Linked DNA regions of Homo sapiens. The protein of the gene in region 2 interacts with the protein of the main gene of each other region in a pairwise test. Each region holds a gene or a part of one and is shown on either strand. Other genes may lie near its edges.

Region 1 (3,657 bases), on a different chromosome or scaffold from region 2:
GTGCGCAGGGACCCTCAGTCACGGATGCGGAGCTGGTAGAGGCGAGAAAATGCAGCCTTCCGGATCCAGCGGAAGAGCTGGGCCAGCTTGTAGAGGAAGTGCAGGGAGGAAGGGGAAGCTGCAGGGCAGAGGGAGACTACAGTGAACGTCCCACCCCTCTCACCTGTCACTCTGCCATCTCCCACCCTGGGAGACTCCACTACCAATTACACATAGTTGGTTTTGTTTTGTTTTTTTTAGAGACAGGGTCTCGCTCTGTCACCTAGGCTAGAGTACAGTGCAGTCTGTGTTCAGCTCACTGCAGCCTCAATCTCTGGGGCTCATGCGATCCTCAGCCTGCAGGTGCAGGTTCTCCTCCCCCACCATCATCACTCCAATGAGTCGGGCCTGCTGCTGAGGGTCAGGGCCACTGGGCCAGGCCCTTCTGAAGCAGCCTTGGAAAGAGCAGGCTCAAATGTCCTCATGCCATCCCCACTAGGAGACCAGGGTTTACGAGACTAAAGGGCTTACGGGAACCATAAAGAATCATAAAGAGTTTCTAAATCTGTATCAGTCAGGAGGTGGCCAGGGATGAACGCTGATGATACTGAGCATTCCGAGCGCTAACTCGTGACTTCTTTGTAAAGCAAACAGAGTCGTCCACAGGGGATCCCTGCTCAGCATTCAGCAGACGGGTTAGAAGGACAACTCTGAGCTATGTGACGGAAACCTCGCTGGCCAGGCATGATGGCTTGTGCCTATAATCCCAGCACTGTGGGAGGCTGAGGTGAGAGGATCACTTAAGGCCAGAAGTTGGAGACCAGCCTGGCAAACATGGCGAAACCCCGTCTCTACTAAAAATACAAAATGTAGCCTGGCATGGTGGTGTGTGCCTGTAATCCCAGCTACTTGGGATACTGAGGCAGGAGAATCGCTTGAACCCAGGAGGCGGAGGTTGCAGTAAGCCGAGATCACGCCACTGCAACCTGGGCAACAGAGCAAGACTCTGTCTCAAAAATAAAAATAAAAAATTAGCCGGGCATGGAGGCACATGCCTGTAGTCCCAGTTACTTGGGAGGCTGAGGAGAGAAGATCGCTTGAGCCTAGGAGGCAGAGGTTGCAGTGAGCCAAGATCACGCCGGTGCACTCCAGCCTGGGCAACAGAGAAAGACCCAGTATCAAAAACTAAATAAATAAAATAAAATAAAAATAAAAATAAATAAATAAATATTTTAAAAAAGCTCACTGAATAAGAGAAAGAGAAATGGGGAAACAGGGAGAATCTAAAGACTAAGTTAACAAATGGCACTTCTCAAAATAGACAAACCATTTGAAGGGACCAGTATAAGGGTTTCTGATTTCCTCTTAAATTTTGAAACTTATTTAATCATATTCTAAGTCTAAATTCATGAGAAGAGTAGAGATTAGAACATAACTCACACTGAGTAACACAAAAAAATCTAAAAGAGCGAGTGCCAAGTTTGGCTTCATGCACCTGAGGGGTCAATCCTCAGGAAATAACTGGGGTTGTTCCCAAATATCACTTAGGGAGCTCATTCCTTCTTCACAGCGAGGCAGAAAACAGAATAATCACCCAAATGTTCAATAATAGGGGTTGTTAAATTACTTAGGGGCATTCCTGTGAACTGGAATAGTTAGCGATTTAAGGCCATGCTTGAAAGCATATGTGTGACATGTAACTGCCTACAATCTCTATATCCATAGAAAAAGACTGAAAGCACAGCAGAGTAGCAGATTTCTATGCCCTTCTTTATACTTTTCTCTATTTTCCACATTTTTTTTTCTTTTTTGAGACAGAGTTTCGCTCTTGTAGCCCAGGCCAGAGGGCAACAGTGCAATCTTGGCTCACTGCAACCTCCGCCTCCTGGGTTCAAGCAATGCTCCCTGCCTCACCCTCCCCAGTTGCTGGGATTACAGGCACGCACCACCACACCTGGCTAATTTTTGTATTTTTAGTAGAGACGGGGTTTCACCATATTGGCCAGGCTGTTCTCGAACTCCTGACCTCAGGTGATCCACCCTCCTTGGCCTCCCATAGTGCTGGGATTACAGGTGTGAGCCACCATGTCCGGCCTATTTTCCACATTTTCTAAAATGTATGAGTTTTTCATTTACAACTTGCTTTGAATTAACACTTCATGAGACATTAATACTTGAATTAACACTTTTGTAGATATTCTGATGAGCGGAAGTTTTTTTGTTTTTTGTTTTTTGTTTTGAGACAGAGTCTCGCTCTATTGCCCAGGCTGGAGTGCAGCAGTGCGATCTTGGCTCACTGCAACCTCCGCCTCCCGGGTTCAAGCTATTCTCCTGCCTCAACCTCCCAAGTAGCTGGGACTACAGGCATGTGCCACTACACCTGGCTAATTTTTTTTGTATCTTTAGTAGAGATGGGGCTTTACCATGTTGGCCAGGCTGGTCTCGATTTCCTGACCTTGTGATCTGCCTGCCTTGGCCTCCCAAAGTGCTGGGATTACAGGCGTGAGCCACCGTGCCTGGCCAAGAGGAAGTTTTTTTAAATTCTGAGGTTCTAGTCAGAGTTCAGCCCTAGAAAAAGTGGAGGACTATGACTCAGTCCATGTTCAGGAGTCAGCAGGGCCAAGTGGACTTTCTCCTGGCTGCTCTCATAGACTCCAGGACTGGCCTCTCCTTATGGGTGGGGCTGGCTCATGCCCAGTCTAGCAATTCCTCCTTGTGGAACAGACTCAGGGGAAATGTCATAGGAGAGACTCCCCTCCCCAGTAGGACTCTGACAAACACCCACTCCCACAGGCCCAGCCCTGGCAACAACCCCTTCCCAGGAAGGACAGGGGAGAGTCTCCACCTCTTACCTGGATCAAATCTCACCACCAGGAGACAGAGGATCAAGGCAGCCAGGAGACTCTTTTTGAAGGGCAGAGAAAAGAAGTGGCTCACCGCAGAGTCCCAAAGCTGGCGAACCAACATCGGTAGTGACAGGAACTTGTGGGAGACAGAGCCTGGCCAGGGAGACAGAGCACAGCTTCAGGGATGTCATGGGAATCAGCTTCCCTGACCCCGACCTCTGTGCTTGCTTCTAAGACCTGAGCAGGCCAGGCGCAGTGGCTCATGCCTGTAATCCCAGCACTTTGGGAGGCTGAGGCAGGTGGATCACAAGGTCAGGAGATCGAGACCATCCTGGCTAACATGGTGAAACCCCGTCTCTACTAAAAATACAAAAATTAGCCAGGCGTGGTGGTGTGCGCCTGTAGTCCCAGCTACTTGGGAGCCTGAGGCACGAGAATCACTTGAATCTGGGAGGTGGAGGCTGCAGTGAGCCAAGATCGTGCCATTGCACTCCAGCTTGGGCAACAAGAGCAAAACTCCGTCTCAAAAAAAAAAAAAAAAGAGTTTAGTAAAAGGGTATTAGGTATTGGCTAAAGCCTTCATTCCTTAACTGCACATACTCTTGCAAATCTCATGAATATAAATTGTTTTCCTCGTGTTTATTACTTATTTTGACTATATATTATTTACTATATTGAATGCATCTTTGTAAAAGTTTTTTAAAACCTTTCAGAACCTTTCAGGCCAGGCGCAGTGGCTCATGCCAGTAATCCCAGCACTTTGGGAGGCCAAGGCAGCCAGATCACGAGGTCAGGAGATTGAGACCATCCTGGCTAACACGGTGAAACCCCG
Region 2 (2,746 bases):
GAAAACATCTGAACAAGTGAGTTTGATGCATGGATTTGATTGCTTCTTGTCTTCCTTATGAAATATTCCACAATTTTTTTGGTAAACTGGTATATTTGCTATATCTGTCATTCAAAGATGCAGATAATTTTTAATGGTAATCTCTTATATTTGTAGTGCTTTTTAATGTGATTTTTATGACACTTTTTAAGACTTTCACATTATTATCCCTCTCATGCCTCATAACTCTGTGCGACTTTGCAGGGCAGCCAGTTCTATAGATGAGGAAATTGAGGCTTAGGAAAGTTATATTTGCCTAAGCCATATTGTATTGAGTGGCAAAGCAAACTAGAATATTGATCTTTGACTCCATATTCGAACCTCTTTTCTCTACATCATTTTTCTTACATTGCCGTCCTATCTTGCACTGCCTGCTGAGGTCAGTATAATTTATGTAACATTATTACATCTCTAAAGGTTTGTATTTCTTTCAAACACCATCAGAAACATCAAAATTTTTTGAAACATGAGCTGAAACATGAGAGTAACATATTGTTACTCTTTGAGAAAAGGGAGGATCCTCCTTTATCAAGTTAATGCCATGTTTTATGCTTGGATAAGGGCTTATCCACTTGGCCTTTGATCTTGTGACTGTCACCTGTAACTGAAAGAGTAAGTTACTTGTCTGACAACTTGTAAGCAACTAAAGATGTCAAAAAAAAAGTTTGCTCTATTTTGTCTGTACTGTGATGTATGTAATGAATGAACCTTTTTAGATTAGATGGGAAGCTCTAGAAATTCAAGGTACATATCTGTTTTACCTACAGTATACTTAATGCCTATCATAAGTTTCAAATTAATATGGATTTGAGCTTTGATTAAAAACTCAGTATTAATTAGCTGCCATCTAACAATATTTTTTTCTAGAAAATACTGTCTAACATATCTCTTGATTTGCTTTCCAGGTTGCGGAATATACGTTATGGTTTTAATACTATCCTTGTGATCCTCATCTGGCGCATTTTTATTGCAAGATCACAAATGGCAAGAAATATCTGGTACTTTGTGGTTAGTCTGTGTTACAAGTTTTTGTCATACTTCCGAGCATCCAGCACTATGAGATACTGAAGACCAAGGATTCAGCATTAGAACATCTATACATATGGTGATCTAAATGTACAAAATGTAAAATGTATAAGTCATCTCACTTTTTGTCAAGACATTAAACCATCTTAGATCGGAGTGTGAAGTAAATTATGGTATATTTTATGTAACATTTTAATGTTTATGCTCATAAAACTTAGTGAACACACTGTGTTATGCCAGCTCAAATCTACAGTAGCCACCAAAACCATGACTTAATATTTTGAGCCCTAGAAGAAAGGGGTGTGCTGAGGACAAGAGTGGGGAAATAGGAACACTGACCAGTATAACTGTGCAATTCTGGAACATATTAATTAAAATAATATGCCTTAACATATAGTGAATTTCTAATTCTAATGTTCAGTGCAATGGAAGACATTTATTTGGACAGTAATACTAGCAAAGTTGGTAGATATTTGATTCTTCATTTTTTGTTTTTTTCATTAGTTGAAGTGGGTTTTAGTTTTGTTTAAAATTATAACCAGCGTATTTTCACATCATTCTGTAAGTTAAATGATATCAAACATGAAAGAGATGTTCTCATTTTTCTTTTTCTGATTAAACGTCTGATGCATATCATTTTTCTATAAGTAATCAGTTGCTTTTAAAATCAGAAGGCTATATTATTCTAATGACCCTATTCGATCTAAATGGGTTTGAGAATCCATATCAGCAACATACGTGTTTTTTGACAGAAAGTGAAAACAAATTCCGTAAAACTGTTAGTATCAAAAAGAATAGGAATACAGTTTTCTTTTCCACATTATGATCAAATAAAAATCTTGTGAGATTGTTTATGTTTTGAAGCAGGAGGATTTCTTGAGATTTGATGGAAGTGGGAGTTGGGAAGGATTCACCATACTTGTGTTCTCCTCCCTTTATAAATTTTATTCATAGGACTTTTAAAAGGCTTGTGCTATCTTTCCAGTGAAAACTGAAAGTGCATTATTATGGAAGAATGTATTTGCAGGTAGTAATAGCATTAAAAAATATACTCGTGTGTAAACACATACTAATTTTGACCTTGAAAGATGAATTCCTTCAAGAAAAATAAAATAATGCTTAAGATAATGTGTACGAAATTAAATAAAGGACTTTATTTACATACTACATAAGGTAGCAAACTGTTGAATGAGTTTGAAGGTATCACTTATTTTTTATGCATGTGATTTTAGCTTTAGAAAGAAATGCGTTATAGAAACAAGTAATAGCAAGAAAATTGATGTATATTTTAATGATACATTAAAATTCCCTTTTAATCATAATAGTTAACTCTACTTACTGTTTTAACATACATTTGATTTAACAAATTGTTCAGCATAACACTTCTAATTAAGTTTATCAAGTTGTACTGTATTAGATAATCAGCAGTGTATCTGGAGTATGTTTAAAGAGAACAGTTCGCAATACAAAAAGTTACATGGAGCTTTACATCTTAACTTTCTTTGTCAATTTAAATGCAATGTATAAAAAGTTTATTTTGCTATTGTGAAAAACTAAATGTAAAGGAAATCACCTACTTTCATGCAGGTGTATAATCTTGAAAAGGAAAAATGCTTCCATGTTGAAGCCAGATTTTCTGTAGTAAAACTTTTAAATATTATTTTAAAAGAAATATGTATAT
Region 3 (3,657 bases), on a different chromosome or scaffold from region 2:
TTTTGCCATGTTGGCCGGGATGGTCTCGAACCCCTGACCTCAAGTGATCCACCCACCTCGGCCTCCCACAGTGCTGGGAGCCACCGCGTCCAGCCTTAAACTTTGTTTGTTTGTTTGTTTGTTTTTTGAGACAGGGTCTTACTCTGTCACCCAGTCTGGAGTGGAGAGGTGTTATCACAGCTCACTGTAGCCTTGACCTCCTGGGTTCAAGTGATCCTCCAGCCTCAGCCTCCCGAGTAGCTGGGACTATAGTCATGCACTATGATGCCCAGCTAATTATTTTTTGTAGAGGTCGGGTCTCGCTGTGTCGCCCAGGCTGGTCTTGAACTCCTGACCTCAAGTGAGCCTCCCACCTCAGTCTCCCAGGCTTCTTTTACTTAACACATATTTTTGAGATTCATTCATGATGAGAACAGTGACAGTTTATTATCACTGCTTTATACAGTTATTGTATGAATGTGTTTGGCCATTTATTATTAACCATTCTACTCTTTTTTTTTTTTTTTTTTGAGACAATGCCTGGCTCTGTTGCCCAGGCTGGAGTGCAGTGGTACGATTTCGGCTCACTGCAAACTGCTTCCCAGGCTCAAGCCATCCTCCTACCTCAGCTCCCCTGGTAGCTGGGACCACAGGCGCATGCCACCACACCTGGCTAATTATTTTTGTATTTTTTGTAGAGACGGGGTTTTGCCATGTTGCCCAGGCTGGTCTTGAACTCCTGAGCTCAACCAGTCTGCCCGTCTGGGCCTCCCAAAGTGCTGAGATTACCAGTGTGAGTGACCACATCTGGCCACCATTCTACTTTTTGTTTTTTGAGACTGAGTCTTGCTCTATCACCCAGGCTGGAGTGCAGTGGCATGATCTTGGCTCACTGCAACCTCTGCCTCCCAGGTTCAAGTGATTCTTCTGCCTCAGCCTCCTGAGTAACTGGGATTATAGGCACTGGCCACCATGCCTGGCTAATTTTTGTGTTTTTAGTAGAGACGGGGGATTCACCATGTTGGCCGGGCTGGTCTCGAACTCCTGACCTCAAGTGATCCACCTACCTTGGCCTCCCAAAGTGGTGGGATTATAGGCGTGAGCCCCTGCGGGTGGCCCATCTTACTTTTTTTTTTTTTTTTGAAATGGAGTCTCGCTCTGTCACCGGCTGGAGTGCAGTGGCGCAATCTCAGCTCACTGCAACCTCCGTCTCCCGGGTTCAGGTGATTCTTCTGCCTCAGCCTCCCAAGTAGCTGGGACTACAGGCATGTGCCACCATGCCCGGCTAATTTTTGTATTTTTAGTAGAGATGGGGTTTCTTCATGTTGGCCAGGATGGTCTCGATGTCTTGACCTCATGATCCACCTGCCTTGGCCTCCCAAAGTGCTGGGATTACAAGCATGAGCCACCGTGCCTGGCCTGAGCCATTCTACTTTTAATGGACATTAGATTGTTTCACCTTTAGGGTCATTACAAATAGTACTGCTGTGAAAATACCTGTACGTGTCTTTTTGTGAACATAATATGTGCATTTCTGGTGAGTTCATCTACGTTTTTTATTTTTTATGGTATTGACATGTTTGGAGAGTCTGGACTACTTGTTTTGTGAAATGTTCCACCATCTGGATTTGTCTGATTTGTTCCCTTACATTTAGATCCGGGTTAAACATTCTTTTGTGAGAATATTATGTAAGTGACGTTGTGTCTATCTGTGTATCATATCTGGAGGAACGAGTCCCATTGTCGAAGATGAAGTTTGATTGTTTGGTTAAGGTGGTGTCTATCACATTTCTCCATCATAAAGTTAACTTGCTAAATTAGTTGCTTTCTTTGCAACTTTGCTAGTATTGTTTTAAATTTTTGAGACAGGGTCTCACTCTGTCACCCTGGCTGGAGTGCAGTGGCACAGTCATGGCTCGCTGCAGTCGTGACCTCCTGGGCTCAAGTGATCCTCCTGCCTTGGCCTCCCAAAGTGCTAGGATTACAGGTGTGAACATGGCCAAGTTTTTCTTTTTTTCTTTCTTGAGATGGAGTCTTGCTCTGTCTCCAGGGTGGAGTGCAGTGGTATGATCTCGGCTTACTGCAATCTCCACTTCCCAGGTTCAAGCGATTCTCCCCCCTCAGCCTCCGGAGTAGCTGGGACTGCAGGTGTGCACCACCATGCCTGGCTAACTTTTTATATTTCAGTAGAGACGGGGTTTCACTATGTTGGCCAGGATGGTCTCAATCTCCTGACCTCATGATCCACCCGCCTCGGCCCCCCAAAGTGCTGGGATTATAGGCGTGAGCCACTGCGCCTGGCCTGGCCAAGTTTTTTTTTAGTATTTTAGTTTAATATTGTATTGACTGACAAAGTCTTATGGCCTAAACTTTACTGTGGAATTCTAATAGGTGTGTTGTGATCAGTTTGAGTTTTGACAAATTGTATATACGTGTGTAACCACTACCACCCTAAACCTGTGTAACCACCACTGCCACAAGCAAGATCAACAGTTTCAGTATCCCTAAACGTTCCCTTACGCCCCTTCCCATTGAATCCTTGCCTGTGGTCCTAGGAAATCTGAACTGTTTTCTATTACTATAGAGTATATTTGTCCCTCCTAGAATTTCATATGAATGAATTATGTATTCTTTTATGTCTTTTTTGGCTCAGAATAATGTTTGTGAAATTTATTTGTGTTATGGTATGTATCAGTAATTATCAGTAATGAATTACCTTTTTTTTTTTTTTTTTGAGATGGTATTTCGCTCTTGTTGCCCAGGTTGAAGTGAAGTGGCTCAGTCTTGGCTCACTGCAACCCCTGCCTCCTGGGTTCAAGAGATTCCCCTGCCCCAGCCTTCCAGTAGCTGGGATTACAGGCGCCCACCACCATGGCCGGCTAATTGGCTAATTTTTTTGAATTTTTAGTAGAGACAAGGTTTCACCATGTTGGCCAGAGTGGTCTTGAACCCCTGACCTCAAATGATTTGCCCACCTCGGCCTCCCAAAGTGCTGGGATTACATGTGTGAGTCACTGCGTCCAGCCAATTTTTTTTTGTTTAGTAGAGATGGGGTTTCACTGTGTTGGTCAGGCTGGTCTCCAACTCCTGACCTCATGTGATCCAACTGCCTTGGCCTCCCAATGTGTTGGGATTACAGGCGTGAGCCACTGCGCCTGACCATGAATTACTTTTTACCGCTGAGTAGTATTCCATCGTATGGATGGCTATATCTCAATTTGTTGATCTGTTCACCAGTTGATGGACATTTGTAGTAGTTTTTGATTCCTGCGTAACAGTATTACCACAAATTTAGCCGCTTGGCACAGCACACATTGATTATCTCATGGTTTCTGTGGGTCAGGAGTCAGGAAACCACTGGGCTGAGTCTCACCAGGCTACTATTGAGAAATCTGTCAGGACTGTGGTCGCTGACTAGGGAGGGGTCTGCTTCCTAGCTTGTGTGGTTGTTGGTGGCATTCAGTTCCTTATGGACCATGAGACTGGAGACTTTAGTGTGTTACTGTCAGCCAGCGGCCGCCCTCAGTTTCTTGCCAAATGAGTCTTCCCACTTGCCTCCTCAAAGCCAGCAGAAGAGAGAGTCTCTTAGTAAAGTGGACATTACCACGACGTATCTCACCCACATTAATGCAGTCACGTACATGCTGTCACCTTTGCCATATTGTGTTGGCCAGAAGC

What was found.
Region 1: the proteins of FAR1 (region 2) and PEX26 come close enough for resonance energy transfer, tested with the Homo sapiens proteins (one large-scale study listed by BioGRID).
Region 3: the proteins of FAR1 (region 2) and PEX14 come close enough for resonance energy transfer, tested with the Homo sapiens proteins (one large-scale study listed by BioGRID).

What each region holds. Positions count from the first base shown.
Region 1 is NC_000022.11:18,084,433-18,088,089, reverse strand, and holds part of PEX26 (peroxisome assembly protein 26), read right to left. Parts: intron 2,979-3,657; coding exon 2,832-2,978; intron 119-2,831; coding exon 15-118; 3' UTR 1-14. UniProt on the Homo sapiens protein: Peroxisomal docking factor that anchors PEX1 and PEX6 to peroxisome membranes. PEX26 is therefore required for the formation of the PEX1-PEX6 AAA ATPase complex, a complex that mediates the extraction of the PEX5 receptor from peroxisomal membrane.
Region 2 is NC_000011.10:13,727,668-13,730,413, forward strand, and holds part of FAR1 (fatty acyl-CoA reductase 1), read left to right. Parts: coding exon 1-16; intron 17-944; coding exon 945-1,107; 3' UTR 1,108-2,746. UniProt on the Homo sapiens protein: Catalyzes the reduction of saturated and unsaturated C16 or C18 fatty acyl-CoA to fatty alcohols. It plays an essential role in the production of ether lipids/plasmalogens which synthesis requires fatty alcohols.
Region 3 is NC_000001.11:10,481,333-10,484,989, forward strand, and holds part of PEX14 (peroxisomal membrane protein PEX14), read left to right. Parts: intron 1-3,160; exon of another isoform or gene 3,161-3,657. UniProt on the Homo sapiens protein: Component of the PEX13-PEX14 docking complex, a translocon channel that specifically mediates the import of peroxisomal cargo proteins bound to PEX5 receptor.